Regions from separate parts of the Homo sapiens genome. Here regions 2 and 3 are each linked to region 1. Evidence: fine-mapped expression QTL. A gene starts in region 1. Each other region holds a variant in brackets. All regions are shown on one strand. Distances are from middle to middle.

What was found. PIP is the estimated chance that this variant, and not a neighbour inherited with it, causes the effect.
Region 2: its variant is the best candidate, but not a certain one, in a credible set for the expression of KIF5C in whole blood (INTERVAL, PIP 0.86).
Region 3: its variant is the best candidate, but not a certain one, in a credible set for the expression of KIF5C in whole blood (TOPMed, PIP 0.82).

Annotation. Positions count from the first base shown.
Region 1 is chr2:148,870,007-148,881,153 of GRCh38, reverse strand. KIF5C (kinesin family member 5C) reads right to left here and starts at 5,927. Exons shown (of 26, transcript NM_004522.3): 1 at 5,411-5,927. The coding sequence starts at 5,536. KIF5C-AS1 (KIF5C antisense RNA 1) reads left to right here. Exons shown (of 4, transcript XR_001739733.2): 3 at 3,812-4,142; 4 at 4,959-8,157. It also overlaps the pseudogene RPS20P13 and the pseudogene USP8P2. RefSeq lists enhancers at 4,103-4,682, 4,683-5,261 and a silencer at 5,634-6,103.
Region 2 is chr2:148,936,731-148,947,877 of GRCh38, reverse strand. KIF5C (kinesin family member 5C) reads right to left here. Exons shown (of 26, transcript NM_004522.3): 4 at 10,490-10,594; 5 at 6,220-6,268; 6 at 5,888-5,943; 7 at 5,118-5,205; 8 at 855-979. Among named protein-coding and RNA genes, the nearest start is that of KIF5C-AS1, 47 kb to the right of the region's middle. The variant C/A (reference allele first, on the strand shown) is at 6,559.
Region 3 is chr2:148,889,650-148,900,796 of GRCh38, reverse strand. The region is part of intron 1 of KIF5C (kinesin family member 5C); the gene reads right to left. KIF5C-AS1 (KIF5C antisense RNA 1) reads left to right here and starts at 5,783. Exons shown (of 4, transcript XR_001739733.2): 1 at 5,783-11,147. The variant A/C (reference allele first, on the strand shown) is at 5,283.

The DNA.
Region 1 (11,147 bases):
AGGAAGGTCACCAAGGGAACAGGAGACATAGGAGGTAATCAGCGCCTATTGAGCATTTTCTCTGTGCCAGACACTCTCTCACCACTTCATTTCATTTCATCCAAATGACCCTGTGAGGTAAGTAATTATTATCTGCACTTTCAATACAAGAAAACTCATGCCCAGGAAAGCTCAGCAACTTGAAAAAAAAAAAAAAAAACTAGGTTTTTTTTTAGCTAGTGAATCTACACTCGGTTTTGTCTCACCCTTCCTGCTACCTCTACCCACCCCATTCACTGACTGTGTGCCTACTGTGAATAGTGAGTGGCCTCAGTGACACACGCCAGATTACAGCTCTCTATGATGTTCCCTCAGTCCATGATTTCACAGGGTACATGTGAAGGAAACCACTAACCCATTTCAGGTGATATAAACATCTCTGAATTTAGGGCACAGAGGAATGAAGAACTGATACATCCTGACACTACTAGACTAGAATGCACTTAGACAAAGTGACTAAATAAACTTACTTTGGTTTAAAATGTTACTGCTTTTAGATGGAAATGCAAATTGGTACAACCACTTTAGAAAACAGTTTGGCAGTTTCTTACAGAGTTAACCGTATGGTTACTTTACAACCCAGCAATCCCATTCCTGGATATTTACCCAAGAGAAATAAAAATGTATACTCACACAGAACCTATATGCAAAGGTTTATAGCAGCTTTATTCATAATCATACCAAACTGGAAACAAGCCGAGCATGGTGGCTCATGCCTATAATCCCAGCACTTTGGGAGGCCAAGGCAGGTGGATCACCTGAAGTCAGGAGTTCAAGACCAGCCTGGCCAACATGGTGAAACCCCATCTCTACTAAAAATACAAAAATTAGCTGAATGTGGTGGCACACGCCTGTAGTCCCAGCTACCTGGGAGGCTGAGGCAGGAGAATTGCTTGAACCCAGGAGGCAGAGGTTGCGATAAGCCAGGGTCACACCACTGCACTCCAGCCTGGGTGACAGAGCAAGACTCAGTCTCAAAGAAAAAAAAAAAAGTGGTATTACTGCGTGTAAATTTGAAAAAATTGTTTTAATGTTATTGCTTTGGAAGACCATTACTGTGGAAAGAAGAAAAGTTTTAAGGTGTAGCTGTATTTCTTCACTTAATCTCTAAAATCCTAACTCAGGCGCGGATTTGGTCTCCAGGCCCCTTCCCCATCCATCTACTGCCAAGAAATAATCTAAGCTTCTGAAGACTGGGGCCACTTTCCAGCTTAGGGTTTGTGGCTGATGTTTTGCTCTGGCTCTTAGGCCCTCAGGAGGAAGCACTCATCTTTAACAAGACCTGCTTTCTCAGGACTGCAAACAAGAGAAAAGCCCAATAAGAGGAAAGTGAAGTGTGAAAATCCATTTCAAAGAACTTTACTGAGAACTCACCATGTCAGAGAGCTTCCATTAATACAGTTGCTTCAAAACCAATAGGCAGAACCCAAAGTAATGGATGACTCACCAGGACTTTTAGCAGCTAATGGAGTACTCTGAGAAATGCTGTAAATCCAATATTTTTGCTGAAAAATTAATGTGTTATGGGAGGGAGCCTCTTTTCTAATCACTTACCCACCCCCACCCTCTACTTCTAGTTCACCATCAGCATCTTTAGCTCTTCTAATTTTTGCCAAAGCTGAATGCAGTTCTTTCCCAATTTTCTTATATCATTTTAAGTATTATATATGCTATCTTACCAGGCCCACTCAGAGAAACAGCACTTATCTTTAAAATTATTTTTTAACTACTCCCCACAGCCTACGGCCAATAAAAACTCTGTAAACTATGTTAAATATACCAAAGTAAAGTTTCCAGAATTCACAGAGAGATCGATAAATATTTACTAAGTGCCTTCTACAGACAAAGCCCTGGGAAGTATAAAGGAGCAAAACATGCACAGTTCTTGTCTCTAAACATGGCTTACAATGTCATTAGGCATATGACCAAAGCTAATAATAATCCAAGGCAAAAAACTTGGGAGATCATATACAAAACAAATGCTATAGGAGTTCAAAGTGGGGAAAGACTGTGGCTGGTGTGGTCAGAGAAAGACAGCTTTGCACAAAGCTGAAAAACTGCAGGAGTGATGGAGAACATTTCTCCCAAACAGGACATTTTCATAAAAGAGAAATCTAGAAACTCCACCTGTAAAATCTCTTTCTTGGAATATATCTCCATAACAAACAGAACTTTAAGGGAAAAAATGACCCCAGTTTCAAAAACACAAAGAATTTCTGGGATTCTGAATTTGGACTAACAGATAACTCCACCAAAATTCATTCTTTACTTGTCTCTGTTTGAAGGTGACATATTTCTGGATGATCTGGGCTTCTTTGGTCATCCACAGTCTGTGCCCCTAGAACTAAGGAAGGTTGTGTACATCTCAGACAGTTTTCACTTGCAACTGAGCCATGTCAGCCGGCTCCAACTGAATTGACTTGGGACCATTCTACTCATTGCATATGGCATGATACAGACTGCCAGAACCCTCATTTCCTTTAGTGCCACATTATCAATTAGGAATGGGAAGGATCCTGGCACATGCCAACCCAACTCCCAAACCCTTCAGTATCTGGCAGTCTTCTATTCTGTACATGCACTCACCAAAATATACATAAACGAATGTTCATAGCAGCACTAGCCATATTAGCCCCAAACCGGAAACTATCCAAATATCCATCAACAGTCAGTAGACAAATTGTAGTATATTCATATCATGGAATACTACAAAACAATGAGGATGAATTTGACAAGCATAACACTTAATCCCAAGAAACCACACACAAAAGAGAACATACTCTATGGTTTTATGTAATATAAAGTTAAAAAGAAACAAGCAAAACTAATAGCATCAGAAGTGAGAATCATGGTTACCCTGAAGCAGGGGGATTTAGGGACTGGAAGGGCCACAAGGGGGATTTCTAGGGTCCCAAAATGTCTGTTTCTTAGTCTGTGAGGTGGTTACAGGGAGCATTTACTTTATGAAAAGTCATCCAACTGTATACTTATGATAACAGTTTTCTATATGAATGCTTCATTTCAATAAAAAGTTTACCTTAGAAAAACTGAAAACTGTTGTATTAAAGGATTATAGTAGGATGAGCAAAACTTACTTTACGGTTGAAAAGCAATGTGTATATTCACATCTATGATTTTTATTTAAACTTCTTATTTAATATGGTGACTTGGTTTTAATTTGTTTAGCCACTAATATATGTTTATTTAGATAAGGAAATATATACTCATAGCAATGTCATATTAAAGAAGGATAATTCTAAAATTAAGGAGCTCTGCCTTGCATACAGGTCAAGGAAGATGATTTATTACTTCATTTCATTGGTTCTGGAAGAAGAAGAGGAGGAGAAGGGAGAGGGGAGAGGGGAAAGGGGATGGGGGAGGAGGGAGGAGGGGAGAAGAAAAACTTCTTCAGGCTCTTCAAAACCTCTGGGAAAAAAATAGGGTTGCCAGAACATGTTCCAGTACTGCACAATTATTTGTTTAAAAATTGTTACAAGCCAAGGGGCAGGGACTAGATGTCCCCAGTAACTCCCACTCTATCTAAACCACAGCCTGGCTCAGAAAGTAGCAGATCAGGCTGTAGGCAGATACTGGCTGAGAGCTGTAAACCAAATAAGTCACTAACTGCCCCAGGTACTGCCTATGTATATGTCACTAACACTTATCTGCCATTAACTGCAGAATTTCCTTCCTCATCAATAATCGTAGCTTATATCTTCTCTGCAAGTTTAACACTAAACAGAGAGAAAACCCCGCTTTCCTGCCCTCATAGGTCAGCTCGCAGAATGATCGCCCATCCACACAGCGTTTGGAGGTCAGACGTTCCTGATGACTGTGAAAATGGGGAGGTGAGAAGAGGTCGTCAAAGGGAGCAGCCTTTTAAAGCCAGGTACAGGTTAAAGCCCTGAGGCCAGAGCCTTGCCCAGGCTCCTCTAGCGTGGAGAGCTCCCGCCTTACGGTACAGCTGGCACCTGCTGGTCCCCAGGGCCCTTCGCTGCGACTGCGGCAGACAACCTTGGCAAAGATGCTGGGGACCGCCCGGGCTGGAAAACGTCGGCCTCTGGCGCTTGAGAAAGGCCAGGCGGACTCCTGCAATACCCTCGGTAAACTGTCACCTGTCAATCACTTGACCTAAATACACCAGCCACTGGAGGAAGGGGAGGAGGGGGTTAGTCGGAGCATGCTCAGTGATCAGGATGACATCACTTAATCAATGCTGGGGACGGGAAGGCTGCATCAGCAGCCTGGAGCAGGCTGCCAGGAACGTGTCAGCGGGGACCGGGAGGCTCCCATTAACTCGGTCCCTCCCCACGCGGCTCGCATACAAAGGGGGCACCATCAGCCACACACGCTACGGACAGCGGGCGGGGAAGGGGCGGGGGACCGAGCTGGTTTGTTTCATCTGACAGATTCCTTTAAGAACTACAATCCATTGGTGTTCCCTCCCCCTACCAGCAGCCCCAGCTGCAGAGAGGGAGCTAAGTAGGGGGAGGGGGTGGGGGAGAAAAGGTGGGGAAGGGAGATAGAGAGGGAGGGGGGTCCGAGCCGCACGAAGTAACTTCTGCTCTTGGCACAGGGGGCTACTGCGCTCTGAGCCCCCTCGCCCCACAGATGTGGACACAGCCTCCTCTCCACCCAGCGTGAGGCGCATCAGAGGGTCTGCAGACATGGGAGGGAGGTCATCCCAGAGGGGAGGGATCAAGCCGGGACTCCACATCCAGGGCAGCCAGGCGTGAGAGGAAGCGGGAGACACACCAGGCCTCCAGGGGACACCGAGGCCACCAGTACTCCCCCAACCCTCCGCCTTCCGCGCGCGGAGCCAGGTGTAACACCGCGGGGAGCCGCGTCTACACTGCCGCGGGAGCTCCGAGACGCGACTAGAAATTTTCCTGTACCCCTTTTTCTTTCTTTTTTGCTAGGGTCGTGAGAAGAAGAGGCAAGGCGTTTGGTAAATCGAATTGATTGATGCCCAGAAGCATTTGCGGGTTGCAGAGCTCACACTTTAAAGGGGGCCTGGGCACCCGGCTTGAGGGTCACCCGAACACACTACCCACGCGGCGAGGCGAGCGTGGGGAACAATGGGCCCACCCGGGCCCCCACCCGGCGAACAATGGCGGCGCCGAGCCCGTCTTCGCCCCCCATCCCCACCCCCGCCACCCCCGCCCGGCCCGCCGCTCCCGGCCGCCTCTCCACCCGCCCGGGAGGGAACCATAGTGCGCGGGGCGAGGGGTCTCTGGTCAGGTCCACCCGAGAGGCCAGCCCCGCGGGAATGTCCGAGGGGGCGGCCTAAACACCTCCGCTGCGTCTGGGGCGTCGGGGCGCCCAGCTGCGGCGCGGAGCAGCAGGGAAGGCAGACGCCCCAGCCACTTACCCCGATCACCACGGTCTCATCGCCTTTAAATTTGGGGATGAATTTGTCCCCGCGGAGGATCTCCGCTTCGTTGAGGGGCCGGAACCGGCACATCACTTTGATGCTGCATTCGGCTGGATCCGCCATCTCGGCCGGCGGTAGGGAGGGGGCACGGGGATGGGTGGGGGGCCGGGGCCGGGAACGACGAGGGAGGAGGCCGCGAGCTGCACCGCCCACAGCTAGGCCGCCTCCTGCAGCCTCCGACGACGCTTCTCAGCAGGTCATCGCGAGCCCGGCCGGCTGAGCAGCCCCGGCCGCTCCGAGCCCGGGAAGGTGGGCAGCTTCTCCGCTCCGGCCCCTCCGGCTGCAGACCGGCCTGCCCTGGCCCTGCCCCGCCCCTGCCCAGCGCCCCCCGGCCCACCTGCCCGCGACCACGCGGCGGGCGGAGGAGGCGATGCGCAGGGAGCGAGCCTCGCCCGGCTCAGACCTCCCGGGCTCCTGCGCGCTCAGCCATCCTGCATCAGCACCAGCGCGCTCTGCCGCCTTGAGACCCGCCCCTCCGCCCCGCCCTCCCCTGGCCCGCCCCGGGACGGTGACGTCACCGTAGAGGTCCGCCCGGCCCCCGCCCGACTCCGAGCGCTGCGCATCCCGGGACTTGTAGTCACTCTACCTGCCGGGGGAAGGACAGGATGCGACCTCCAAGAGCCTGCAAGTCCGGTCTGGCTGCCCAAGCCGGAACCGGATGGAGGTCATATCCAATATTTCCGGTTAAAATCTCTAGATAACTGGGTCTGGATCATCCTGATCCCAAAAGAAAATCACTTGGGAAACAGCTCCCAATAGCCCCTGGGTTTCATCCTTCAACTTCTACCACTAGATAAGGATGGATGTCTGTTCAGAGTTTGGGTTTGATTGGCCTTGGTTTAGGTTGGCATCTAGTGCTAAACCAATCAACCAGAATCAGGGATTTTGTAAGATTATGGAGGAATCCCTTGGTGGGAAGGTTCCCAAAAGAAGAGGGATGGTATTCCCAGACATGGTGCCGGGCTGGCAGAACAACTGAGTGTCCACTCTATTTTTCCAGAACTTCCTTTTCCTCTAAGACCTAGCTCAACCCTCCTTCCTCAGACTTTCCCAGCTCACTAAACACCTATAAAGAGTTGGTGGCCCTCCTTGATGTTCCCCTAATCTGCTGTGCCTGTCTCTAGCACTGCACTTGGGTGGTGATATCTGCTTGATATCTTTGTGTCTGTAGCATCTAGCACATAGTGGGCAGCATACTGAATAAGGATTCTACCCTAGGAAGAAGCAATGCATGAGTGTGAATCCCACCTCAGCCACTTATTAGATGTATGACCAACAGGCGGAGGAAATTAAGAGCGGAGGAAATTAAGAAGTCTTAATTTCCTTAAGACTCAGTTTCCTCATCTCTGTCATTGGAATAATATCATCTTGTGATTTCTGGGGGAATTAAAAGACAGATGCTTTTAAAGCACCTAGCACGGTGCCTGACATGTATATAGGATAAGCTCTTGAAAGTTAGATGTTATTGGGTGCTGAACAAATGATCATAAAACAAATAAGTTAGTTAATTTTAGGAACACATCTGTTGCTTAAATTCGGGTAATACCTGAAAATACAAGTGTTCTCTGCCTAGCTGAGAGGACAGACCTACTAAAATCAACTTTTATAAACCCTTGTAAGTAGTACCAGTTCTATTTCATCTCCTCATGTGCAGTGGAAGTAGATTAAAAAGACCCAGGTGCCACCTTCTCATCTGTTTTTAAATTAAGTAATTCTCAGGCTCTGGCTCAGAGACCCATCATCTTAAATGATCAACTTCATAATATACTAGAGAGGACAATCCAATTCTCAGTTTCCCTGAGCCCACCAGAAGATGCCCAGAACCTTGCATACACTGGTTTATCTGAGGAGGTCAGGATTATCTCAAGTGGACAGAGACGTATCTGTGTGTCACTGTGTTCAGTCATCATTCATTCGTTCATCTGTTCATTCATCAGCTATTAACTGAGCAAATGGCATTTGCTGTCACTCTGTAAACTTAGATTTATTAAGTGAACCCTTTTCAAGGGAGATAACGTAGGGCCTCTCATTTGAAGGGAGGTTGCAAAATAAGTCATCGCCCTCAGGCAGCTTAGAAACTAGTGGGAGTACAGAGGATGAAGTTCTCAGTGTTGTCTGAGAAGGCTTAATATAGGAAATGGGCTAAGTAGGATTCAAAACAATTGAAAAGGGACACCAAAAGATAGGTAACAGGCCGGGCGCCGTGGCTCACGCATGTTAATCCCAGCACTTTGGGAGGCTGAGATGGGTGGATCACTTGAGGTCAGGAGTTTGAGACCAGCCTGACCAACCTGGTGAAACCTGGTCTCTACTAAGAATACAAAAATTAGCCAGGCATGGTGGCACGTGCCTGTAATTCCAGCTAATCTGGCGACTGAGGCAGAAGAATCGCTTGAACCCAGGAGGCAGAGATTGCAGTGAGCCAGGATTGTGCCTCTGCACTCCAACCTGGGCGACAGAGTGAGTCTCCATCTCAGGGAAAAAAAAAAAAAAGATAGGTAACAGAAGAAAAAACAGATAAATTTAACTACATCAAAATTAAAACTTTTGCACATCAAAGGATGCTATGAACAGAGTGAGAAGGCAGCTCATGAAATGGGAAAAAATTTGCAAATAATACATCTGATAAGGAGTTAATATACAGAATATATAAAGAATACCTATAACTCACAACCAAAAAAAAATTTTAAAAATGGGCAAAGGATGATGAGCTGGGCTGGATTCCATCTTGGTAGCCAAGGCTAATTCTCCCTCGAGTTCTTGGGAGATGGGCCTTTGGCAAGAAGGCTGGTGTTAGTGAAGCGCACCCGACGCCACGGAAAAAACTACTTTTAAGGAAATATAGCATCTATCGTGAACGTGGAAAAGTAAAGATAATTCACCATGCCTGCTGTGGCTTTAGTTCCTAAAGAACTCTACCTGAGTTCTTCACTAAAAGACCTCAATAAGAAGACAGAAGTTAAACCAGAGAAAATAAGCACTAAGAGGATTACGTCCATTCAATACTTGGAACTGCAAACATCAAAAAAGCCATTGAAGAAGCTGAAAGACTCTCTGAGAGCCTTAAACTAAGATATAAAGAAGCTGAAGTCCGGAAATAACTTGAGGAAAAGGACAGGCAGAAGGAAGCACAGCAACTACAACAAAAAAGGCAGGAAACAGGAAGAGAGGATGGTGGCACATTGGCTAAAGTTTCTTTGGAGAATGTATTGGATTCCAAAGACAAAACCCAAAAGAGCAATGGTGAAAAGAGTGAAAAAATGTGAGACCAAAGAGAAAGGAGCAATTACAACAAAGGAACTATACACAATGATGACGGATAAAAACATCAGCTTGATTATAATGATTGCTCGAAGAATGCAGAATTATCAGGATTCCTGTATTTTACATTCTCTCAGTGTTCCTGAAGAAGCCATCAGTCCAGGGTGGGTTATTGTGTAGTAAAGTGGTAAACTGTGTAGTAAGCAGTAAACTGTGGACCTTAGTAAATGTTACTACTTAGCATTCAAGCTAAATGTGATAAAGTAGTCTTTTCCTGTTAACTTTTTAAATCTTTGCCTCTTTTTTTGGGGGGGGGCAGGGCCAGAGGGGGAGGTGCGTTTTAAGAGCAGAGGTTTAATAGGCAAAAGAAAGAAAAAGGAGAACAGGGCCGGGCTCGGTGTCTCACACCTGTAATCCCAGCACTTTGGGAGGCCGAGGCAGGTGGGTCACAAGGTCAGAAGTTTGAGACCAGCCTGATCAGAATGGTGAAACCCTGTCTGTACTAAAAATGCAAAAATTAGCCGGGCATGGTGGCATGCGCCTGTAATCCCAGCTACTCAGGAGGCTGAGTCAGGAGAATCACTTGAACCCGGGAGGCGGAGGTTGCAGTGAGCCAAGATCGCACCACTGCACTCCAGCCTAGGTGACAGAATGAGACTCTGTCGCAAAAAAAAAAAAAAAGAAAAAGGAGAACAGCTCTCTCATTTTTGAGAGTGAGAGGTGCCCAAATGGCACTTCCCTAAATCTTTGCTTCTTAAAGACACACTTTACGCTTTATGAAGGTTGAAGTTACAGATTTCCTAACTTTTGATTTGGCTGTTTTCTCCTATTTGTGGTATTTAGAATCCTATCAAAAGAGAAATGAAGTTGCCTTTTCCCTCTCTCCCCAGGTGTTTGTTGACTGATTTTTCCTATTATTTTCTGTTTATAAGCATGTGAATGATATGTACCAAATTGACTAAAATTGTGAACTAATTGAATTGTTTTACATGTTGAAATTCCCTATATTATCTGTGATACAAGAGTATCCAAATACTGTGTGTGTGCTTTAAAGAGTACAGTCTCTGATGTCAGACTCTATTCAAATAATTGTCACCTACTAGCTGCATTATTTCTAGCTAGTGACTTAGCATTTCTAAGCTCATGTTTCCATCTGTAAAATGGGGATAATAACAGAACCTATCTTACAGAGGTTTCAGGAGATTTAAATGAGAAACGTTATATATATACACACACACACACACACACACACACACACTTTAGCACAGGTCCTGGCACGAGTAAGGACTTAATTTAAAATTTTTTCTTTCTTTTTTAGTAAAAAGGCCTTTAACCTATGAAATAATTTAAAGTGACTTGCATGGGTATATTGTACAGTAGAAATCATGATAGTGGCAGAGCTAAACCTCCAGATACAGGGCTATTTTCACTATTTCGAGCATTCTTATATAGATCCTATTACCTCTCTGGGTCTTAATTTAATTTTAAAATTAGGTAATGAAATCTGTATAGTTCTTGGCATATTGCAGATGCTTGACAAATGTTTGACCTGAAGCATAGAGTGCTTTGTAAATAAGCTATTTAAAAATTAGAGCTCTTGGGCAGGGTGCAGTGGCTCACACCTGTAATCCAAGCATTTTGAAAGGCCAAAGTGGGCGGATCACTTGAGGTCAGGAGTTCCAGACCAGCCTGGCCAACATGGTGAAACCCCATCTTTACTAAAAATACTTCAGCCGGGTGTGGTGGTGCATGCCTATAATCCCAGCTACTCGGGAGGCTGAGGCAGGAGAATCGCTTGAACTTGGGAGGCAAAGGTTACAGTGAGCTGAGATCACGCCACTGCACTCCGGCCTGGGCTACAGAGGGAGACTCCGTCTCAAAAAAAAAAAAAAAAAAAAAAAAAAAAGTTAGAGCTCTTTGAGGAAGACACCGTCGAAAGTGGTGCCGAGCTGTGGTCTGCCCGCTTCTGCTCCTGCTCCTGACTCACTGCTGTTGCTCTCGCCAAGGAACCAGTCGGTCAGGAAGCCACGCAGCAGCTGTGGCTTTTAAAGATACTGGAAAAACACCCTTGGAGCCGGAGGTGGCAATTCACTGAATTCGAATCACTGTTTATGAGCCACAGCTTAAAATCCCTGGAGGAGGTGTGTGCTGACTTGATCAGAGGAGCAAAGGAAAGGAATCTCAAAGTGAAAGGACCAGTTCAAATGCCTACTAAGACTTCGAGAATCGCTACAAGAAAAACTCCTTTTGGTGAAGGTTCTAAGACATGGGATCATTTCCAGATGAGAATCCACAAGCAACTCATTGACTTGCACAGCCCTTCTGAGATTAAGCAGATTACTTCCATCAGTATGGAGCCAGGAGTTGAGGTGGAAGTCATCATTGGAGATGCTTAAGTCAACTATTTTAATAA
Region 2 (11,147 bases), 67 kb before region 1:
ACTGACCAAGCTTCAAGGCTGGCCTTCATGGGGACAATCAGCATGATGTCAGTGATGATGGAGGCCAGAGGGCATTGTGCACATGGCCTTGCTCTATGATGTTGCTCGAGGGAGGTCAGTGCCTCCAGACAGGGTGTGGCAGCAGAAGCCTCCACTGGTGCTATGGAAGTGAGACTGGAGATTCTGGGAAGCCTATTGCTCTGGAGTACAGCCCCAGCCAGGGCCTGGGAGGGCATGGGTCAGGGTGTAGACGACAAAAGAGAATCCGGACAAAACCAGAGAACAGTAAAGGCTTGCCGCTGAGGCTGATTACAGGCCACACTTCATGAGAGAGCCAAGGCCTTCCACATGGGACACCGTCAGCCCATGCCTACTGCTGGGAGAACCAGGGAATGCAGGGAGCGCCCCAGGTTCCAGACCTTCTATCAGCAAAACAAACCTGCAGAGGCAGGACTGCCACATTCCAATGGCAAAGCTCGTTCCTGGCCTATTAGAGTCGGGTACAACATGGGATTTTCTCTTTTCTCAGAAGTTCATATCCCTCCCACATGTGTGCAGCTGCCTCTGCCACAGGCTAAGTCAAACCAACTGTTGCCTCATATCATCATAAGGGCCCATCAGGGATAAATCAGAGTTGGCATGCAAAGCACCTGCCTGTGACACCAATAGGAGACCTCAGGACCAGAAAAGAAAGCAGGGACAAAGGGTTAAATGTAATAACACCTTGGCAGAGCCTCAGAAACTTTAAAAGCTCTTTAAAGCAGGAAAATAGAAAAGCATAAAAATTATACCATTGCACAATGAAGCAAATAAAAGGGGAAAATTATAGATAATACAAATAAAGAACAAATTACCTTTTCGCTCCCAGCCAAATCAACCAAATAAAGTTTCCCACTGAGTTTTTTTTCAGTCTCTACATTCTCTTGTTTAATATTTATCAGGAAGATACTGTGACTTCTAGAGCTGTGTTCATTCATGTCTGAAAAGGAAAATAGTTTACTGCTCTACAAAGAACATGTAGGTTTAGGTAGCAATCCTCTCATTTAAAAAGCATAACAAGTCATGCCTAATAGATCCATTTCATTGAAGTAAGTCCAGTCAATTCTAAAAATTATCTGAGACCCCTGTTTCTTCTGAAAAACAATGCTCATTCTAGAAATACAAGATTTTAAATGTCTTCAAGGAGCAAAGAAGTTAATCTAAAAATCTTAGTCAACAGTTTAAGATATCAGATTTTCTAGCTCTACCTGAAGCCCCATCCTCTAAATTCCTACTCCAGCATGACTTTCCCCTTGAAGAATTCACTACCTCCTCCCCTGCCTCACTTTAAATTCCTCAGACTTCATCATGATTAATACATGATGTAGTCTATCTTAGTCATGTGCATAAGCCTTGCCTTATCAGTAATATCATAAGCTTTCTTAAGCAAGGATTAAGACTTTCCTAAGGAAGGATTAAGACATACACTTCTACAACCTATGCTAACAGCAAAGAAGGTTTCAAAAATTAAATATGCTTCATTAAGATGGGGTACTGGAAATAAAAATCCTTGCAAATCCTCGTCTTTGTCTGCCAAGCAGACAGAGACCCCAGCAACCATCCCATTCAGCCTTCACCAGCAATCATTTCTCAAAACCATCTTACCAGATTATATGTAAAAAGCCCTAAAGATTCATTTTTAAAAAACTGTTAGAACTAATAATTAATTCAGCAAAGCTGTAGGATACAAAATCAACATGTAAAAAATCAGTTGCATTTCTATATACTAACAATGAACAACCCAAAAAATTAAGAAAACAACCTTATTTATAATAGCAAAAAAAGAATAAACTACTTAGGAATAAACTTAACCAAAGAAGAGAAAGACTTGTACACTGGAAACTACAAAACATGACTGAAAGATATGAAAGAAGACACAAATAAAGGGATTGATTGAAAGACTTAATATCATTAAGCTGTCAGTATTACCCAAAGCAATCTACAGATTCATGGCAATCTCTATCAAAATTTCAATGACATATTTTATAGAAGCAGAAAAATCCATCCTAAAATTTATATGAAATCTCAAGGGATACCAAATAGCCTAAACAATCTTGAAAAATAAGAACAGAGTTGAAGGTCTCACACTTCAACAATATAATGGACTTTGGGGACTTGAGGGGAAGGGTGGGAGTAGGGTGAGGGATAAGAGACTACAAATAGGGTGCAGTGCATACAGTTCGGGTGATAGGTGCACCAAAACCTCACAAATTAGCACTAAAGAACTTACTCATGTAACCAAATACCACCTGTACCCCAATAGCCTATGGAAAAATAAAAAATAAAAGTTACTACAAAGCTACAGGAATCAAAACAGTGTGGTATTGACATAAAGACAGACATATAAATCAACAGAAGAGAATAAAGGGCCCAGAAATAAATCCTCACATATATGGTTGAATAATTTTCAACAAGAGTGTCAAGACCATTTAATGTGGAAAGAACAGTCTTTTCAACAAATAGTGTTGGAAAAACTGGATAGCTACATGCAAAAAATATATTAATGTTGGGCCCTTACCTTAGAGTACATGCAAAAATTTACTCCAAAAGGATCAAATACCTACATATAAAAACTAAAACTATAAAACTCTTAGAAGAAAACACAGGAGAAAAGCTTCATGACATTGGACTTGGCAATAATTTCTTGGATATGACACCCAAAGCACAAGCAACAAAATAAAAATAGACACTTCATCAAAATTAAAAACTTTTATATCAAAAGACACTATCAATAGTGTAAAAAAGCAATCCATGGAATAGAAGAAAATTTTATAAATCATATATCTAATAAGGGATTGATGTCCAGAATACATAGAGAACTCCAAGTCAACAACAACAAATTAACCTGATTAAAAAATAAATACAGACCTTGAATAGACATTCCTCAAAGAAGATATACAAATGGCCTATAAGCACATGAAAAGATGCTGAACATCACTAATCATTAGGGAAATGCAAATCAAAACCACAATGAAACAGCACTTCACACCATTTGGATGGCTATTATAAAAATAATAACAATAACAAGTGGCAAGGATATAGAGAAATGGAAACTCTGATGTACTGCTGTTAGGAATAGAAAATGGTACAGCTGCTATAGAAAATCGTAATAATAGCAAATAGTAGCGGTTCCTCAAGAAATTGAAAGTAGAATTACCATGAGATCCGAAAATTCCACTTCTGCATATATACTCAAAAGAATTGAAATCAAGGACTCAAATAGATGTTTGCACACCTATGTTCATAACAGCATTATTCACAACTGCCAAAATGTGGAAGCCACCCAAGCGTCCATTAATGGTTAAACGAATTTTTTAAATGTTGTATATACATACAATGGAATATTGTTCAGCCTTAAAAAGGAAGGACACTTGCTACCACATGGATGAAACTTGAAGACATTATGCTAAGTGAAATAAGTCACAAAAGGACAAACACTTTATGATTCCACTTACATGAGGTACCTAGAGCAGTCAAATTCATAGAGATAAAGTAGGTTGAGCAAGAGGAGAATAAAGAATTGGTGTTTATTGGGTACAGAGTTTTGGTTGGAGAAGATAAAGTTCTAGAGATGGAAGGTGGTGACATTGCACACATTGTGAAGGTACTTAACATCACATAAATGCACACTTTAAAATGGTTAAGATGGCAAATTTCATATTAAGTATATTTTATTGCAATAATAAAGAAAAACCTTACCAGAATGATAAGAATAATAGCAATTTTTTTTTAGATTAGCAGTTCCAAACCAAGGCATCAAAATGGATTATCAGGTATGCCATAAATAATTTGTGATTAAAAACAGCTTCAGAAACAGAGTGAATAACGTAAATGAGAGATGCTACTACTATAAGAATATCTGTCTTACATTCTTTCAGGTATGTGTGCATGTTTTAAGCAAGAGAAAAAGAAGTGGAGCTTGACCAACATTTCATCCAGGAATAGGCTCACCTATGAAAGTTGCTATATACATGAATATCATCTGATACATTGCTCAGATAGAGAAAATGTTGAGAATTACAGTTCTGGACCACAGAATCAGAGAGTCTTGGGTAGAAGAGACTTAAAGAGCCTAGACCAGTCAGGAAACCAATGCCTGAATCTCTTTTACAACATAACAGTGAACTCACTACCTCTCTAGGTAGCAGGCAGCACTTGGGGCAGCTATAAGGGTTGGAGAGTTCTCCTCACAGGGGTCGAAATCTGCCTCCCTAGAGCTCCAACAATCATGGGTATTCTAAGTATTGAGATGGAACAGAACAAGCTGACCCTCTTTCTTAGTGTCAGCACCTTCAACACGGTAAGATATATTACATTGTCCACACACCCTCCTCCAGATTTTTTTCCCTCATGCAAGCTATAAACCCTTAGTTCTCTCAGCTTCTGTTCATATGAACTCACTGTCATTTGTCCACATCCCTCTTAATAAGATAGACAACTGTCTTTTTTCACGGATCCTCTGCTGCCCAAATCCCATATGCACTGCTTCCCTGAGATGCAATGAACATACTGAGGAAGGAACTGCAGAGCCAATGAGCCGATCTGAATGTGTCTGCTAGTAACATATCGGAAGGCTTTCCCTAAAGCTCCTGGCTCTGCTTTCTGACTTCCTTCTTCCCTTTCTTTTTCTTTTTTACAGAAGGCAGAAATCCAACATGGTTTATTTCCATGTGTGTGACTGCAACATATTATAGAATTTGTTGGTTTGGAACTTTTTTTTAACCTGAACAATAACATGATCAAAATAAATAAACTGATGAGCTTACTCTTTCCCTCCCTTTGGTTGGCTGGTTGTTTATTTTTCCTAATGTTCAGGCTTAGGCTGTTATCAGGGTCCAGTAAGTCTCACCCAATATCTCCAAGACCTCAGAGTCCTGTGGACAGCAGAAGGCACCCTTTCCCATGACTGCCTAGACATACTCATAGCACACATACCCTGGCGTCTGTGTCCGAGCACTGCTCTTTAATCACCTTCCCATGCATTCTTTCATTTGTACCTAATTCCCCACCCCCCTCGGTTGGTGGGCAGATATCTGTCTCCCAAGCTGCAGGGGAGGAAACACCCCCACCATGCTTACTTGTCACAGCCACGTGTCGGTTTGCTTTGCCTTCATCTATTACATCCATGACTTCCTCAGGGCTCGACACAAACCGCTCAGTGCACCCCTGGAAGAGAATCAGTTCAGGTTCACCACTGAAAGAGTTGAAAAGCAACAATATTTTGAAAGGCTGAAACATTTTCCTGTTTATCTTCTAGAGGTGCAGATAAATAGAAAGGCTGAAATATCGATCCAACAACTTTTCCTCCTTGCCCAGGGCTTGAATTCTACATTAAAGAGAAGTCTGAGCAAGCCCTAGGAAATATAGACGTAAACCAAAAAAAGAACTGTCAAATTTTCCTAGGTTTTTGAGTACATATTCATACTGAACAGCAACACTTTAAGAAGACAGAAAATCAAAGAAGAAAATCAATGAGAGAAGAAGAAATGGATGAAGTTTTGCTTTGCCTTCTATCTTTATTTATTTATGATCATGGCCACCAATATTAGCTACTTTGATGTTCCACAGATAATGCTATAATAGGCGTTACTGCAAAGTAAAAACAGTTGCACTCAATATCAAAATCTCTTTAAATGTGAACAATATTAAATAATAATGTCATAAAGGAAAGATACAATTGAAGAAAGTAAATGTCAATTTTTAAAACCAGATGAATATTAAATATAAGGAGCCTGAATAAATGCCTATATGCTCTTTACAGATAATATTCTGCACATCTTATGTAATAATTATTATGACAGAGACTGGAGAGAAATTAATTGCATCACCAATCAAATCTTCCTCATACCTTTACATACGGGACTCTGTTTTTATCTTCATGAACAGCCAAGTTGGTCTTGGATACTAAAAAGATGAGAATGACAGCAGGCAAAGAAGAAAATAAAAGTTAAAGACTCTATATTGGAGGAAAAATGGAAGTTTGTTACAAAGACAGTCAAATCTAATCTCTTTGCAATATGCAAGTTTAAGCCTTGGCTGAGAATAAACATATACCCTGAAGGCAACAGAGTATCTCTATAAATTTTCATTAATTCCTTAAGCAGAAGTGTGATAAACCATTTCAACCTCCCCGGACTTTCGTTACAGAACAAATAAAGGACAAGCACTGAGGTTACTTACCATCAAGTAAGTCCCTTATTTTGTCCAAGTAGATCTCAAAATAGGAAACCTAGTTAAAAACAAATTGAGCTTGGAATAGACATGCCGCAGTGTATTTCAAAAATGCCATTATTAGTACTTATGAAAGCTTTCATCATGCATGGCTAAGAAGAGTAAGAAGAGGGGTTCAAAGTGAAGACTTAAAATCTGGCCAGCTCTACTGGGATTCCCCTACTTCCCGCTTGCTCTACGCTTCCCTAAGTGTGGACCACTCTCCACCTACACACATCACAGCTCCCTTTGGTTGTCATTCAAGTGTTCTTAACATCATGTGCTAGACACTTACAGGAGGACTCTAGG[C/A]TTTAAGTTAGATGAGCACCAAGCACGCTTAGAAAACACTCAGTAGGCCTCACCTTATTGCATGATACTGACAGTATCATGAAGGAGACTTAGCCCAAATGTTCACATGCAAGAAGCCAGGAGAGGGCAAGGGCAGTGTGTTTAGAACTACAAGAGCTCAGAAAGGTAACTGAGCAAGAGCTGGTAATGGTGGCCAGCTCTGGTGCATCCAGGAAAGATCTGAACAAAATGGGACTTGATAAAAGATGGTTAGACTGTGAGAAGAAAAGGAGGCCTTCCCATTAGTCTCAAGGCTCAGCCACAGCACCACCTTCATCAGCATCACCTAAGAACCTGTTTGAACTGCAGAACCCTGAACCCTACTACAGTCCTGCTGAATCCGAATCCCAGATAAAAGGAACTAGGAATCTGGTTCTCAGTTGCCCAGGCGATTCTTATGCTGGCTGATGTCTGAGACCTGCTTTAACTAAATATGTGGTCTTAGGGACTCAATTCACACATAACCAAGACCCTAGGCCTCAATTGTACCATCTGTCACATGAAGCCATAGGGCTTTACGATGTCAAAAATCCCCCTCTAGGATTCTGTACTCTGTTTACATCTGCTGTCTGCCTACCCAATAAACTTATCTGCCCTATGTTCATAAGTGCTTTTGAAATCTAAACAAGGGAGTGGGCAGAAAGGAAAACAGTTGTAAAGTTGTAAAGCTGGGATGTGACTACTCAGGTAAAACCTCATCCCTACATCCCAGCTCTGGACCAGTCAAGGGGAAGCAAAGACTCTAACCCAGCACTGGTCCCAGCTCTGACTCAGCCCTGATCCATTATCCTTAATGTGCCTCGGTCTGGAACTACCTGACTGGAACCATCCCAGCTACTCTGAGATGTGGGGTCCTAGCTTGAGCCCTGGAATCCACTGCTGGGCATCTCTCCTGGCTGCCTGTATCCCTAGCAACATCTGCCTACTTGAACACCTGTCAGACTTCCCTGTCCCTGAGGCCCATCTCTCATGGACACACTTATGTGACATTTGAAAGACTCACGCCTACAGCTTTCTCTAATCTTTCATGCTGCCACACTCCCCACATCCTTATGGGTCTGTCTGACCTCCAATCCTGGACATCTCTAACCCAGTCCTTCCTGCAGCCAACTCCACCCTGGTTCAGCGCATTCTATTTATTTCAGAATTGTCTGATGTTCATTAAGACTTGTCTATTATTTTTGAGATCTTAAACATATGGCCTTATTTCCATAGATTACAGAGAAAATTAATTACATCTAAAAAAAAGTCACAAACTAGATACTGGCAAATCTGGCAATTAGAATCATATTCACATTTAATGTAAGTAGAAACAGGATTCTGATTTCATTAATTTCTGCTTTTGGTGTGTGTGCGAGGGTGGTGATTTTGTTGTTTTGTCATTTAAAATACTTTGTGAGACTAGGCGGAAGAAAAATAAATAGGCATTGTTTGGCATTAAGAAATAGGACGTTCAGAAATAAAGTTTAAAACCTCTGTGGGACTCATTTAAGGAGCAGATTTTCGATATTGCCTTAGTCAGTCCTCTTTTTCTTGATTTAGCCTCTCACTATCCGGTTCAGAATACAAAGTAGTCAGCAACTAATTTGCCCACTTATTATTTATAAAACAAGTAAGCATAAGTACAAATGCAACACAGAAATCCAGACTGTAAAATTCAGCCCTAGAGACTTAAGAGTGTTGTTCCTCTCCTCCCCTAACTTCATGCTAGGGCTGTTTTTATCTTAATAAGATTCTAACACAAGACCCTATTTTGAGGGCAGTAATTGGTTTAACATCTTATTCCAGGATTATCACATAAGAACCCTGCAGTAGTTTAAGCTATTTAAATGCAAACAGCCCTAAAGAAGCACTAAGCTTCTAAATCTTGATCCCATCAAAGCAACAAGCTTCTGTATCCTTAGATATAAAGAACCTTGGCAAGAAGGAGAAGCAGGCTTTAGCCAACAAAAGGAATCCTAAGGAAAAGTGATTTGCTAGATGTAATTTATAGTTGGGCAAACAGTTGGTGCCTTCTTTTTATGTCATTTACGAAAGGTATACAGTAGTAAGGGGAGAAGTTTAATATAATTGAAAAGGTATCGCATGTGCGGTTGGTCAGACCTAGGGTCTATTCTTAGTTTTATCAATAACTTGGTGTTTAAGTTGGGCCTTGTAACTCTGCGTCTTTTTTTTTTTTTTTTTTTAAGACAGAATCTCTCTCTGTCGCCCAGGCTAGAGTGTGGTGGAGTGATCTCAGCTCACTGCAACCTCTGCCTCCCAGGTTCAAGTGATTCTCGTGCCTCAGCCTCCTGAGTAGCTGGGATTATAGGCACACACCACCATGCCTGGCTACTTTTTTTGTATTTTTTTTTTTTAGTTGAGACAGGGTTTCACCATGTTGGCCAGGCTGGTCGTGAACTCCTGACCTCAGGCAATCTGCCCGCCTCAACCTCCCAAAGTGCTGGGATTACAGGTCTGAGCCACTGTGCCCAGCCTAACCCTGCATCTTTAAACTTCCGTTTCCTCATCTCTGAACAGATGGGCCTGGTGCACTAAGATCCCAGCCTGAAGGGAAATCTCTTAGCAGATCTGCTTAGCGAGGCTTCTTAGAACTGCCCCTTCACCCTCCCCAGCCACAGTGGGGGCCCCCAGACAGCATGTGCATCCTGGACACAGCTCATCGGGCAAGGGGGGCACCTATGTAGGCTGGGCCAATGAGTCCCTGCCCAAGGGAATTTAGAGTTGGAAATAAGGGAATGGTGGAGCAGCAGCTGCCATGTTGCCAACCCCTTCTCCCACCAAAAAGAGAGAAAGATGCTCCAGAACAAGAGAAAGAAGTCAAGCAAGGGGGCAGAAAAGCAGGGACTGTAACAGGTTTGGGGTTTCTTTTGGAGGTGACGATATGCTCAAGAATTAGGATAAGGATCATCATTGTACACTTTTGGGAATATATTAAAAACCATCAAACTATACACTTTAAAAGGATGAATTTTGCGGTATGTGAACAATATCTCAATTGTTTAAAAAGTTTAAAAAGAAAAACAGGGCTTAGATTTCCTGCCCTCCACACTTCATCCTCCACAAAATGCCCACTGTCAGATTCTGTATCTTATAAACAATATCCTCTATTTGCTTAAACAAGTGCCTTTCAGCCACTTGCAAAAGAGGTGTTCCAATGAATATACCCTACTATCAAATTTGATTATTTAACAGCTACAGTAAGAGAGTAGAAATCTCTCTTTTAATGCCAATTTAAGTCATATAACAAGTTTTGGTTTAAAACAAAAACAAAATACAAGGGGGAAGATAAAAAGGAAGAGAATTCCTCTTCCCAACATTTCTCAGAGTTCTGCTCTGTGACACTCTGCTCAAAACACAAGTCTGTGATACTCTTAGGAGGAGAAATGTGTCTACATTCAAATAAGCTGGGAAATGTAATCTAATGCATGTCCCCTTTGCAGAGCATATTGAAACCTGTGATAAACTTAACACTGTTCAAGAAAGCATTTTCCCAGCTCATTTGGCCTTACAGCCCTTTTCCCTGCTAGCCCACCATTAATAACACAAGGGACTGTGTTCCACAGAACACACTTTGGAAAATGCTGCCCTAACCCAAACACAAACACATTTCAGTCATACCCACAGAAATCCAGAGGATAAAGGGTAGAATTTGGGCAACAATCAAGATGATTTCCTCCTAAAGAAGGCTTTTGCTTTCATTATGTGGATATTTCAAGCAAACCCTCCAGACACCTGTTAGCCTAGGTCACTAATAAAGAGGGCTCTGCTTACCACAAGAATGTCATTTAAATTAGTAGGATCATCTTTTATATCTTCTTGAAAGGAGGAGGTATAAGAAACGTTATCTGGGGCCCAGTGTCTTCTCTGGGGACCAATCAGTAATACGTACCTTTATGTGAAACTCCAGGTTCTCATCCATGGAGTAGATATGGTCAAAGATATCATGGGCAATTCGTGGGATGATCCCCATGAGCTGGGGGTCATGCAGCTTCCCCTAGTGGGCGAAAATACAAACACGGGCAGTTAAAGCATGCTGGGAGACACATGAGAGAGAGGGAGAACCATCTCTGGGTTCCTCAGACAGAACCCGGTGGAGCAGGAAGCACCCACGTGTGCCTGCCAGCTCCCTTGGGCATCTACCTGACTTGCCAACAGACCAGAAGTTGGTGGAAAAACTCATTGTGTTGGCCTGTTTATCCAGCAGGGGAGCACTTGTTCTGCCAAGTTCTGAGGCCCCACATTATTGCCTCCAGCTGCCACTCAAGGAAACAAAATCAGAGTCTATGTGGCTAGTGTGGGGTGAGGAGGAGGAGGAAAAGGGAGCAGGAGAAGGAACGAGAATATATGGGTTTGGGTTTTGAGTATTTACAAACTGACCTGAGCCTGGAGTTCCAAGTAAGGCAATCTTGTTTAATGAAATCACCTCTAGAACTGATTTCCAAAATTTTCCAAAATTTCTAAGAACCTTATTCTGGCAACACTTTCAGTATCATTTAACAGATCAATCAAGAAAATACATTTCATCAACTTCTTTTAAAAATCTGTGG
Region 3 (11,147 bases), 20 kb before region 1:
TTCTGAAATTTTCTCTTTCTCCCTCTGGTCTGTAAGCCCAAGCTCCATTTCTTTGTCCCCAATGCATCTCCAGTACAAAGCACCAATTAAATATTTGCCAAACCCTTTCCCAAAGGCAGTTTGTAATTAGAGAGTAAAGGTGTCGATCTCTGACCAGTGTTGCTATGGGAATGACTGAATGCAAACTTCATTTTACAATTAAAGTAACTGTCAGAAAGGAGGCAGGAAGCTTGTAAAGAGGCAAACGAGGGTAGTGTGGGATGAGAAAGAGCCATTCCCAGGGTTCTGTTGGCAGGGAGGGAGAGGCCCCTATGTCAGCTGACTGTCTGCACTCATGGAAGGAAAAAATGAGGAACATTTTAAGACTTGATTTCCAAGATTTTGAAAACAAATCAGAGGCCTTTCTTGGGCTTAGCATAAAACCATCACAGATAGGCATTCCCTACATGACTAGATCACTGGACTGTAAGCTTTAAATAGAAAATGGTGAGGCAATGTGGGTTATTGGAAAAGAGTGTCCACAATGATATGTGTTTAAGGATGAAGGGGGAGATAAATTATCAGGAAAACCATCTGCTCCAAGGTCTGAGAAATAGAAGGCACTGGCAAAATAGAGACATCTTTGGGGAATACTGAAAACTAAGCTGCATAGAAGTCAAATGGGGAAAAAAAATCACAAAATCAGCAAAATAGCTTTCCAAGAGCAATCAAACAAGGTACCTGAAGAGTAGAAAAACAGTTCAATAAAGCTGACCAAGCAGCCCGACTCTGGGGCAGCTACCAACCTTAATTGTCTCTGCATCGGTTTGAGCTGAGCTTAAAGTTAGGCAGAATGAAGTGGCCAAGCACTTGTTTTCCATGAGATCTGAAATCATTCTGTTGCCTTAATGCCCAGGCATACCCTACATTCAGCTGTGAACACAGGAGACATACACAGAAATATGAGAAGGGAAAGCCCAACCTCATGGAATTCAGGAAAGAAATACCCATGACTTGGCTGAGGAAATCTATTGCAACCATTTTTAAGGAGTCTGTTGGTAACTGAGGAGTAGTAATTATCCAATTGTTTTCTTTTTTTTTTTTTTTTTTTTTTTGAGATGGAGTTCTGCTCTTGTTGCCCAGGCGGAGAGCAGTGGCGCGACCTCGGCTCACCGCAACCTCTGCCTTCTGGAATCAAGCGATTCTCCTGCCTCAGCCTCCCAAGAGGCTGGGATTACAGGCGCCCACCACCACGCCCGGCTGATTTTTTGTATTTTTAGTAGAGATGGGGTTTTGCCATGTTGGCCAGGCTGGTCTCGAAATCCTGACCTTAGGTGATTCACCCTCCTCAGCCTCCCAAAGTGCTGGGATTATAGGCATGAGCCACCACGCCTGGACCCAGCTGTTTTCTTATGCCAAGCATAAGCACATCTAGATGTTCTCATTTAAGAGAATAAAATAAATCTCTTTAATTTGCTTTACTTCACCTGTTCCATTTTCGTTAATCCAAAAGCTGACATTGCCAATGGTATTTAACAATAAAGCAGCAAGTAGTCTTGAAACAAAAATAACATTAAAAGGAAAGAGTAAGATATGGCTTTCTATGCTTTGTCACTGACTCTTAAAAAAATAAGATTAAAAGGTGTTCGATGACGAAAGAACTATATAGGCTAATCTGAATTCTGAAAAAAATACTATTTAATTAATATTCTATATAGCAAGCACCTAATACAATTCTTATTTTAGCAGAGATTATATACATAATGTCTCCATTTCATATAAAATTTTCTCTGAATGCTAGATGTTTGGTTATTAATGTGAACATAAACCCTTCAAAATATTACTGTTTTTCTTCATAGAGAATAGCTCATGAACATTCGTTGCTGCTCTCTAACAGGAACAGATATCTTCTGGTAAAAACTTGTGTTTGCTTTGTAAAAAAAATTAAATAATACCATGTAGTAGGGTGACGTTTCCTTTCGCTGCTATAAAAAATTAACAGAAATTTAGTGGTTTAAGACAACAAAATTTTATTATCTTTCAGTTCTGGATGTCAGAGGTCCAACTTGAGTCTCACTGGGCTGATGTCAAGAAGCCTGCAGAGCTGCTTTCTTCCTGGAGGCTCTAGGAGAGATTCCGTTTTCCTGCCTTTGCCAGCTTCTAGCGGCCGCCTGTATTCCTTGGCTCGCATGACCCCTCTGTATCCTTAAAGCAGTAATGGCCCGTCAAGTCTCATGAGGCCATCAGTTTGGTTTCAACTTTTCTGCTTCCTTCTTCCCCATTTAAGAATCCCTGTGATTGCACTAGACAATCTTTATTTGAAGGTCAAATGGTTAACAACCATAACTCCATCTGCAACCTTAATTCCCACTGGTCATGCAACATAACATATTCGGGTTCTGGGATTAAGAAGTGGACATCTTTCAGGGCCATTATTCTGCCTACTACAGAGGAAATGAGAATTGTCTCATGAGATACTCAGTTCAGGGCTCTGTGGCCTCTGCATTTAATGATTGGTTTGGTGGTAACATTCAACATGAGCCTGCCTATTCTACTGCAGGGAACTGGCAACTTTGGCTTTTTCAGACTGGAGAGAGCCTCTCAATCTAGGACTCTCCACTCCCTAGGTGCCTGAAGGTCTCCATTCCTATGTGGACTAGACAGGACATTTGGCAGGAAGGGAGGGCTAGGAAAAAGACAGGACTTCCCACAGTGATCTACATGCAGAAGGCCTTAGAGCCAGTCTTTGATGGGAGGAAGGCACAGTGTGCAAATCAGGGCTCAACTCCTCTCCACTCCCTCAAACCCTGAGCTTTCTCTGCTAGCCAGCACCACCTCTCCCTGGAGCACACAGGATGATTTTTTTTTTTTTTTTTTTTTTTTTTTTTTTTTTTTTTTTGAGACTGAGTCTTACTCTGTCAGCCAGGCTGGAGTACAGTGGCATGATCTCGGTTCACTATAACCTCCGCCTTCCAGGTTCAAGTGATTCTCATGCCTCAGCCTCCTGAGTAACTGGGACCACAGGTGTACACTACCACAACCAGCTAATTTTTGTATTTTTAGTAAAGACAGGGTTTTACCATGTCAGCCAGGCAGGTCTCAAACTCCTGACTGCAAGTGATCCACCTGCCTTGGCCTCCCAAAGTACTGGAGTTACAGGTGTGAGCCACATCACCTGGCTCACAGGATGATTTTTAAATGCATTCTATACACACTTAACAAACATGCCACTAATCTGGAAAATTTATTTCACTGGTACCTAGCATAGTGTCTGGACCAGAGCTGGGACTCAAAAATATTTATTGCATTAATAAATATCGCATACTTTTATAATGTCTGTGAGGTGGAGCATTGAGCTGAGCAGGACTAGAGAATGCTGAAAAATAAGATTTTGATGTCCTTCAGCCCTTCAAATGAGCTAGGGAAAATTCAATTTTTGAAAGGAAGCTATAATAACTCCCAAAAGTTCAAGAAACCCTAGTCTACTATGTGCTGGTTCATGAATTAAACTTAGTAGATCATAAGCAGCATTTTAAAAAATAAAATGAGACAGAGTAGAATAGAAAATATTAGAGGACATCACATATATTAACAGTGTCACTTCATAAAACTATTATTTCAGATGTGTGTCTGTGTGCTAAGTTGCAATATATTTGTATTTCTTGTTAAAATGAATCATGATCTTGGCCGGGCGCAGTGGCTCATGCCTATAATCCTAGCACTTTGGGAGGCCAAGACGGGCAGATCACCTGAGGTCAGGAGTTTGAGACCAGCCTGGCCAACATCGTGAAACCCCATCTCTACTAAAGATACAAAAATTAGCCGGATGTAGTGGTGAGTGCCTGTAATCCCAGCTATTCAGGAGGCTGAGGCAGGAGAATCGCCTGAACCTGGGAGCTGGAGGCTGCAGTGAGCCCTGAGATCACACCACTGCACTCCAGCCTGGGTGACAGAGTGAGACTCCATCAGAAAGAAAGAGAGAGAGAGAGAGAGAGGAAGGATCATGATCTCATAGTCAAAAACAAATGGAAAACTGCTGCTCTACTAAAAACGTTCTCATCACAGAATTCTGGAATAGGCTAGCCTTTCACAGGATGATAGTTACCAAAAACTCAGTTCCAAATGGCTAATTTTTAACTTCTTAGGTTTCTATTGTCTTTTGTCCCAGACAGTTCCAGCAAGGCATAATGATGCTAAGAGAATTACCTCCCTTTCATTCTCTGTTCCAGTACACTCTCAATCCCTTACCAAAACATTCGCCTGGGATTCTCTTTTCTCACTGAATAAAACAGGATACACATCAGCATCGTGATGCTCCAGAGGGGAGGCAGTCCATGAAATGGTCTGATTGCTGTAGAATTCTTTTCATGTAGCCATCCACCCCATTGTGAAAGAAGCAGCTGGATATCCAAGCATCTTCCAATACTCAGGCTTCAAGGTCCAATAATGTCCACTCCTCCCCAGGAAAAGCTGGCATGCTGCTGACGTGGCCTCTCTACTCCTTTGTTTGCAGGCTTAGCTCACGTATGTGTTGTTCACTGCTCACACAAGCCACTCTCTAGGAGGGCTCGCTGAGAGCTCTCTTCTAGGGAATCTAAACTTTGTTATTTGGAAAAAGCCAGGAAACCCTTCATGAGCTGAGGATGGGTTTCCTGGCTTCAGAGGATGGGTCTGAGTTCTCACATCTCTCAACCCCCTTGCAGCATATAATGGCTTTAGTATATGCTACTCGTTATAGACACAACTGGGTCCACCCCAAAATTTAACTGTTGAAGCCCCACATTGGAGGTTAGCAAAATTCCTAACACCCAATGTGACTGTATTTGGGGATAGGGCCTTCAGGGGGGTAATTAAGGATAAATGAGGTGATAACGGTGGGACTCTGACTCAATAGGATTCATATGTCCTTATAAGAAGAGGAAGAGACACCAGATCTCTGTGGGTGTGTGTGTGTGTGTGTGTGTGTGTGTGTCACACAGAAAAGCAGGCATGTGAGGACATGCACGGTGAGAAGGTGGCTATCTACATGCCAGGAAGATAGCCCTCACCAGAAACCAACCTTGGCACCTCGATCTTGGGCTTTCAATTTCCAGAACTCTGAGAAAATGAATTTCTGTTGCTTAAGCCACTGAGTCTGTAGTATTTTGTTTTGACAGTTCAAGCAAACTAATACGCTAGTTATATTAAATAGAATTTACGTAAGCTATGTTTTTTGACCATTTGAAACATAAATGTTAAGAGAAAAGAGTAAGTCACAGACAAATATATACAGTATTTTTATAAATATTTTGGAGATTCAAGAT[A/C]AAAAAAAAAGTAAACAATCTATCATTTAGGGCCAAAAAAATGTTTGCCATAAAACCATAGAGAATGATAAAAGTAGGGCCAAGTGCGGTGGCTCACACCTGTAATCCCAGGACTTTGGGAGGCTGAGGCAGGTGGATCACTTGAGGTTAGGAGTTTGAGACCAGCCTGGCCAACATGGTGAAACCCCATTTCTACTAAAAATACAAAAATTAGCCGGGCGTGGTGGTGCACACCTGTAATCCCAGCTACTCAGGGGGCTGAGGCATGAGAATCGCTTGAACCCGGGAGGCGGAGGTTGCAAGTGAGCTGAGATTACTCCATTGCACTCCAGCCTGGGAAGAGACTCCATCTCAAAAAAAGCAAAATTCCAGGGAGTGCTTGCTTCAGAGTGAGGGGGATAACAGCTGAGATGAAGGGAGGGTTGCATATTGGTAAAGTGATGTTAAGCAAAAGGTGGCCTCATGGGTGTTAATTTCTTTAGAACATCTCATAATTTTTTGTTTTATATATATTATTTTATATATATTAAGTATTTTAGAATAGAATTTATAAAAGTAAGGTGTTAGAATAACCTAACGCCCATCAGTTCATACTTATTCTTGGGGAGAGGAGAGGGGATAAGGAGCATTTCTACTTTCCAAATCTTAACTTCCTGAATTTTTTTAAATCAACCTAAAATGTTTATATAATATTTGGAATAAAAATGAAAGAAAATTAAAGAAAAAAAGTAAAAAGAAACTACTGAACACTTGTGATTACTTTTATACTTCCTTTAATCTTCCCTCCCACCCTATATATATATATATATATTGTACTAAACTTATTTGAAATGTAAGCTTTGGCTGAAAATAACTTGCCCTCTTTTGAAATGAAAATAATTGCTACAGGGTTGTAATAATAATTCAATCACTGGTTATAGCCTGGTTATAAGGAAAACACCAGGAAACAGACATCCAAGGAAGGAAGTCTCTTATTTCTTTTCATTTCAAGGCAATTTAGGTAAATTACAGACATTTCCCTTTCAGAGCTGAGGACTATCAATAGAATTTTAAGTGTGGTCCATTTATACTAATGTCTTCAATTTAGAACTTCTTGGACCTTACTTTCTTTATGATGCCAGCTTTTAGTTCACATTAAAATAATTTTATGACTAGCAAGTTGCAAAAAGAGAAAAGTGTTTTGTACATGTGGCTTCTATATTTTGGTAGAAGGAGAAATCATTTCAAGGCAATCATTTTCTGTACTTAGTGAATCTCTAATTTCTTTCCTTTTGGCACTGCCAACTGGATAACTAGATAGAAGATAATGGAGTTTGGATATTCAATACAAAACTATTTTCATTCTGTGGAAAATGAAACCACTTTGCAAACTACTATGAAACCACTGCAAAACCACTTTGCCCCACCCTTAAAGGTGTTTCATGCTCCATAATCCTTTAGTACTATTCAATCACTTGTCAGTGGTACTGTATTCCCAGTGTGTGTATGTGTGTGTGGTGGGGTGTGTGTGTGTGCACTTCTATCCATCTGTCTCCTCTACTAAACAGTGAGTTGCTTGAAGGTAAGATAAATGAATTGTGCTCCCCTAAGAAATGCCTGCATTTGCAGTTTGGTCCAAAGACGGTGAATTGCACAAAAGCAATATGTAGGCAGCTTCTTTAGTCCTCAGGTGGAAGCGATAATGGGATGTAGGGAGGTAATGAGACTAAAAATAATCATGAAAATGAGAATGTAAGTGCCACAAGAAATATTCATTCATTCATTCATTCATTCATTTTATCATGTATTATGTGTACCCATTCGGAATCATGTGTTGAGAATATGAAAATAAATCAAGCAAACCCTGACCTGAGAGGAGCTCACACTCCAAGTGGGATAATTCCAAGAAGGAAGTGACTAAAGAGAAATGGAAATACCTCACTGTGAGTTTCTAGGGTGAGAACAAATTTACAGCCACAGATAGATGGGAATGGCACTCGAAGAAGAGGGAACCTCATCAATAAAGGCTTGGACGAGTGAACGTGCAGACTGAGTTTAGGACACAATGGATAGTTAGGTTTGAGAAAGGCAGAGTCCTGAAGTGAAGTACAGTCATCAAGGCAAAAGGCTAAAGGGAACATAGTGTGGAGGGGTTTGCTGAATCACAGAAACCAAGTTGGGGAGTTCAAACTTATTTTAGTGAGCAAAAGAAAAGCCTTACATGTTTTTGAGCAGAGAATTGGCATAAATCTGAGTGGCACTTTGGAAAGAAGAGTTTAGCAACAGTGTTCAAAAGAGACCAAAGAGTAGAAAGGAAACAGGGAATTGTATTCCAAGACTACTGCAATTCAAGCAAGAGCCAGTCAAGGTCTTCAGGATCCATTTGTGATTAAAAACAAAACAAGCCAGGTATAGACTGTACTTTCTTATCTTGACAATAAATATCTACTAAAAACGTAAAGCAAACCTTGTTCTAAGATTAAGAACGAGACAAGGGTTCTAAGTATCACTGATTTTATTTTAAACTGTCCTGCAGGTCCAATCCAATGCAATAAGATAAGAAAAAAGAAAGTAAAAGTCTACATCTGGAAAGAAGGAAACAAAACTGTCATTATTTGAAGAAGAAAAAATTATCTTCATGATATATCTTTCAAAATCTACTGAAAATTTTTTAGAAGACAGTTTAGCAGTGTGGCTGAATGAGCAGATGGACTTAGAAATCTAAGAAGCAGACATAAATCTCTCCATTTTTAAGACAGAGAAGAATAGAGATTAAATAAAGGTTTTTACAAGAAAAGCATCATAATCCTTTCTCTGTGGACAGGTCCATGTGGATTAATAGTACATCTAAACATTCATAAGTGTAGCCTAAGAGGTTTCCAAGTAAATGCACCACACCCTGAGAGGAATGGCACTGCATTCTATGGAAGGTCCTAAACAGCCTTTCAGATGGAAATCACAGCATGACAGAGAAGCCAATTGGGACTTCATACATAATTTGAGATGAATGCAAGGGCAAGCAACAGAGATGGAAAAAATTCTTCCACTTTTAAGTATAGCCCAGGTTTACAGCTCTCTTCTCCTATAGTCGTTCCCAAACTTACGTCTCAGTCTAATCGGTTGCTAATGGGAACAACAAAGCTAGGTATGCTTATTCCATTTACTGCAGGATTGCTGATTCAAAGAGGCAGCCTCCAAGAGGCAGAGAATGAGAGCAACACTTATCACATTTGATTGACATCAAATCCTTTTATCAGGTAATATCTCAAAGAACTAGTGCCTCGGAGAAATTCTAGTTTAGAAAATGCTGTGCACTCAAACATTCTCAATTCCTGGTATGAACCAAAATTTAGGTGCAACATAGCAAATGGTTAAAAGCAAGGATGCTGGAGCCCACTATGCTGGATCCACAACTTACTCTTCTGTGACCTTCAGCAACTTGCTTAACCTCTCTATGCCCAAGTTTCCTCATTTGCAGAATGGCAAGAGGGAAAATGACAAGAGCAGTTACCTCATAGGGTCATACTGAAGATTAAAATGAATGATGCAGTGGCTCATGCCTATAATCCCAGCACTTTGGGAGGCCAAGAGGGATGGATCACCTGAGATCAGGAGTTTGAGACCAGCCTGACCAACATGGTGAAACCCCACCTCTACTAAAAATACAAAAATTAGCCAGGCATGGTGGTGCATGCCTGTAATCCCAGCTACTTCGGAGGCTGAGGCAGGAAAATCGCTTGAACCTGGGAGGTGGAGGTTGCAGTGAGCAGAGATCACGCCATTGCACTCCAGCCTGGGCAACAAGAGTGAGACTCTGTCTCAAAAAAACAAAAAATAAATACAAAATAAAAATAAAATGAATGATTTCATATATGTAAAGCACTTATTTAAGTGTTGTCACTACACTGTTAGAATTACAATATTTCACAAGCGAGGAAGAATATGACTTTGTTGGTGTAAGAAGAAAATTGCTCTGCATGAAATAGGCCCATAAAGGTCTGTGAGAAGAGCAGTAATACATACATTGTCTGCAGTTCTGCTAATCAAGACATTCGACTAATTGATATTTATAGTGCACACATTAATGCCTAGATTTGTGTCTGGTTTGAGGTGACGTGAATAGGAAAAAAATAATAATAAAAAAAAAAAGAAGAAGCAATCCTTAGCCTTAAAAAGGTTGGAGGATTTTCTCTAAATATGGTCCTCCTAAGTATCCACGTTGAAAAGCACCTTTTCTCCAACTTTCCATATTCACTTTCCTGAATAAATTACATCTTCTGGAAGGAAATTTAGTGCTAAAGGAATTTTGCCAATATTAAGCCATTTATAGGATTGTTTTCTACCACCTCTTCCCTCAAAATGATAAGCAAGTTCAACAGACATGAAACTACTACTGTACACTCAGGAGACTCTGAAATATGCAATATCCCAAATGGGACCCACAATGCAAAATTCTTCCAGGGAACATCTATACCAACAGAAAAATGCCTTAAATTACTTTATTATACTTTACTTTTAAAATGTGGCTTAATTTATGCATACTTCATTATATATCAATTCCTTGAAATCTGGTGATCTATATATATAATATATATGATAACCAGTAGCCAGAACAATGTCATCCTCCAACTATTAATTAAATAAGATATTCATATATTTATCCTTTTGGATGCTAAGTCAAGAACACGTAACAGTTGAAACTCATTTGGGCTACCAGCCATAAAACTGTGAAATGCAAACTTCAACAGTACCCGTCCTCATGGGAACCTGAAAAGGGTTATTTGAGGTCAAAAGACACAACATTTAAGGAGAAATGTCTCATGGGAGTATTTCTGATCCAGCTATAGGATAGAGTGGAATACCAACTCAACTAAATCAAATTTCAATTCCTCTAGCCCTCTTTCAAGCCCCTCCACATCCAATCCCCTCCTTTCTAGCAACCTTGCTCTCTCCTCTATACTCAGGCCTCTCAAAAGTGGCTCACATGCTTCCTTGTCCTTTCACACAAAGTGATCACTGCTCTTTTTTTTGTTTAGAGTCAGGGTCTTGCTCTGTTGCCCAGGCTGGAGTGCAGTGGTGCAATCATAGCTACCTGCAGCCTCCAATTCCTGGGCTCAAGTGATCTTCCTGCTTCAGCCTCCCAAGCAGATGGCACTACAGGTACACACGACCATACCTGGCTAATTTTTAAAAATATTCTGTAGAGGCAGGGTCTTGCTATCTTTCCCAGGCTGGAACAGTGATCATCTTGAATACCTTTTCTCCCCTGTAGAAACTGTTATTCCATCTTTCCTTTTTTCTTTGTGCCTTGTGTGTTCTTTAAGTTGTATGCAAAAAGTGTCTCTATTTAAACATTTTAAAAGTTATTATTTATAGCTTATAAATAGGTATAACAGCAGTATAGGTAAATTTTTCACAAACCAGTTAGTTTCTTAAGTAAATGGTACTCAACATGATAGTTAAGGCACCAAAAAGGACCTCTGTATTTGAGTGACTAAACCTACGCAATAAAGAGCAGCATTTTGTACTCAAAATAAATTTTGTAGAAAAGGAAACATGCTGTGTCTTCTAAAGTAAGACAACAAACACACCCAGAAAGGGGGCCCACAGCATTCCTTTCCTCTCTTTTTCCACCGTAATTTCCTCCTCATATTGCTTTTCCTTTTGTTTACCTTACTCAGGTTCTCCTGTCCCAGCCCCTGGGCTTGCCAGTGATGCCCAGAGGATGATGTGCCTGGTGGCTGAGCTCTTCCAGAACTAAAGACGTGCGGATCCCTGAGTATCCATAACCATCAAAGCATGAAGTAATGCCTTGTAAGTGGTGTCACCACACCTCCCAGAAGAAGGATGGATTCCTACCAGAAGCAGTCAAACATAGTGCCGGAT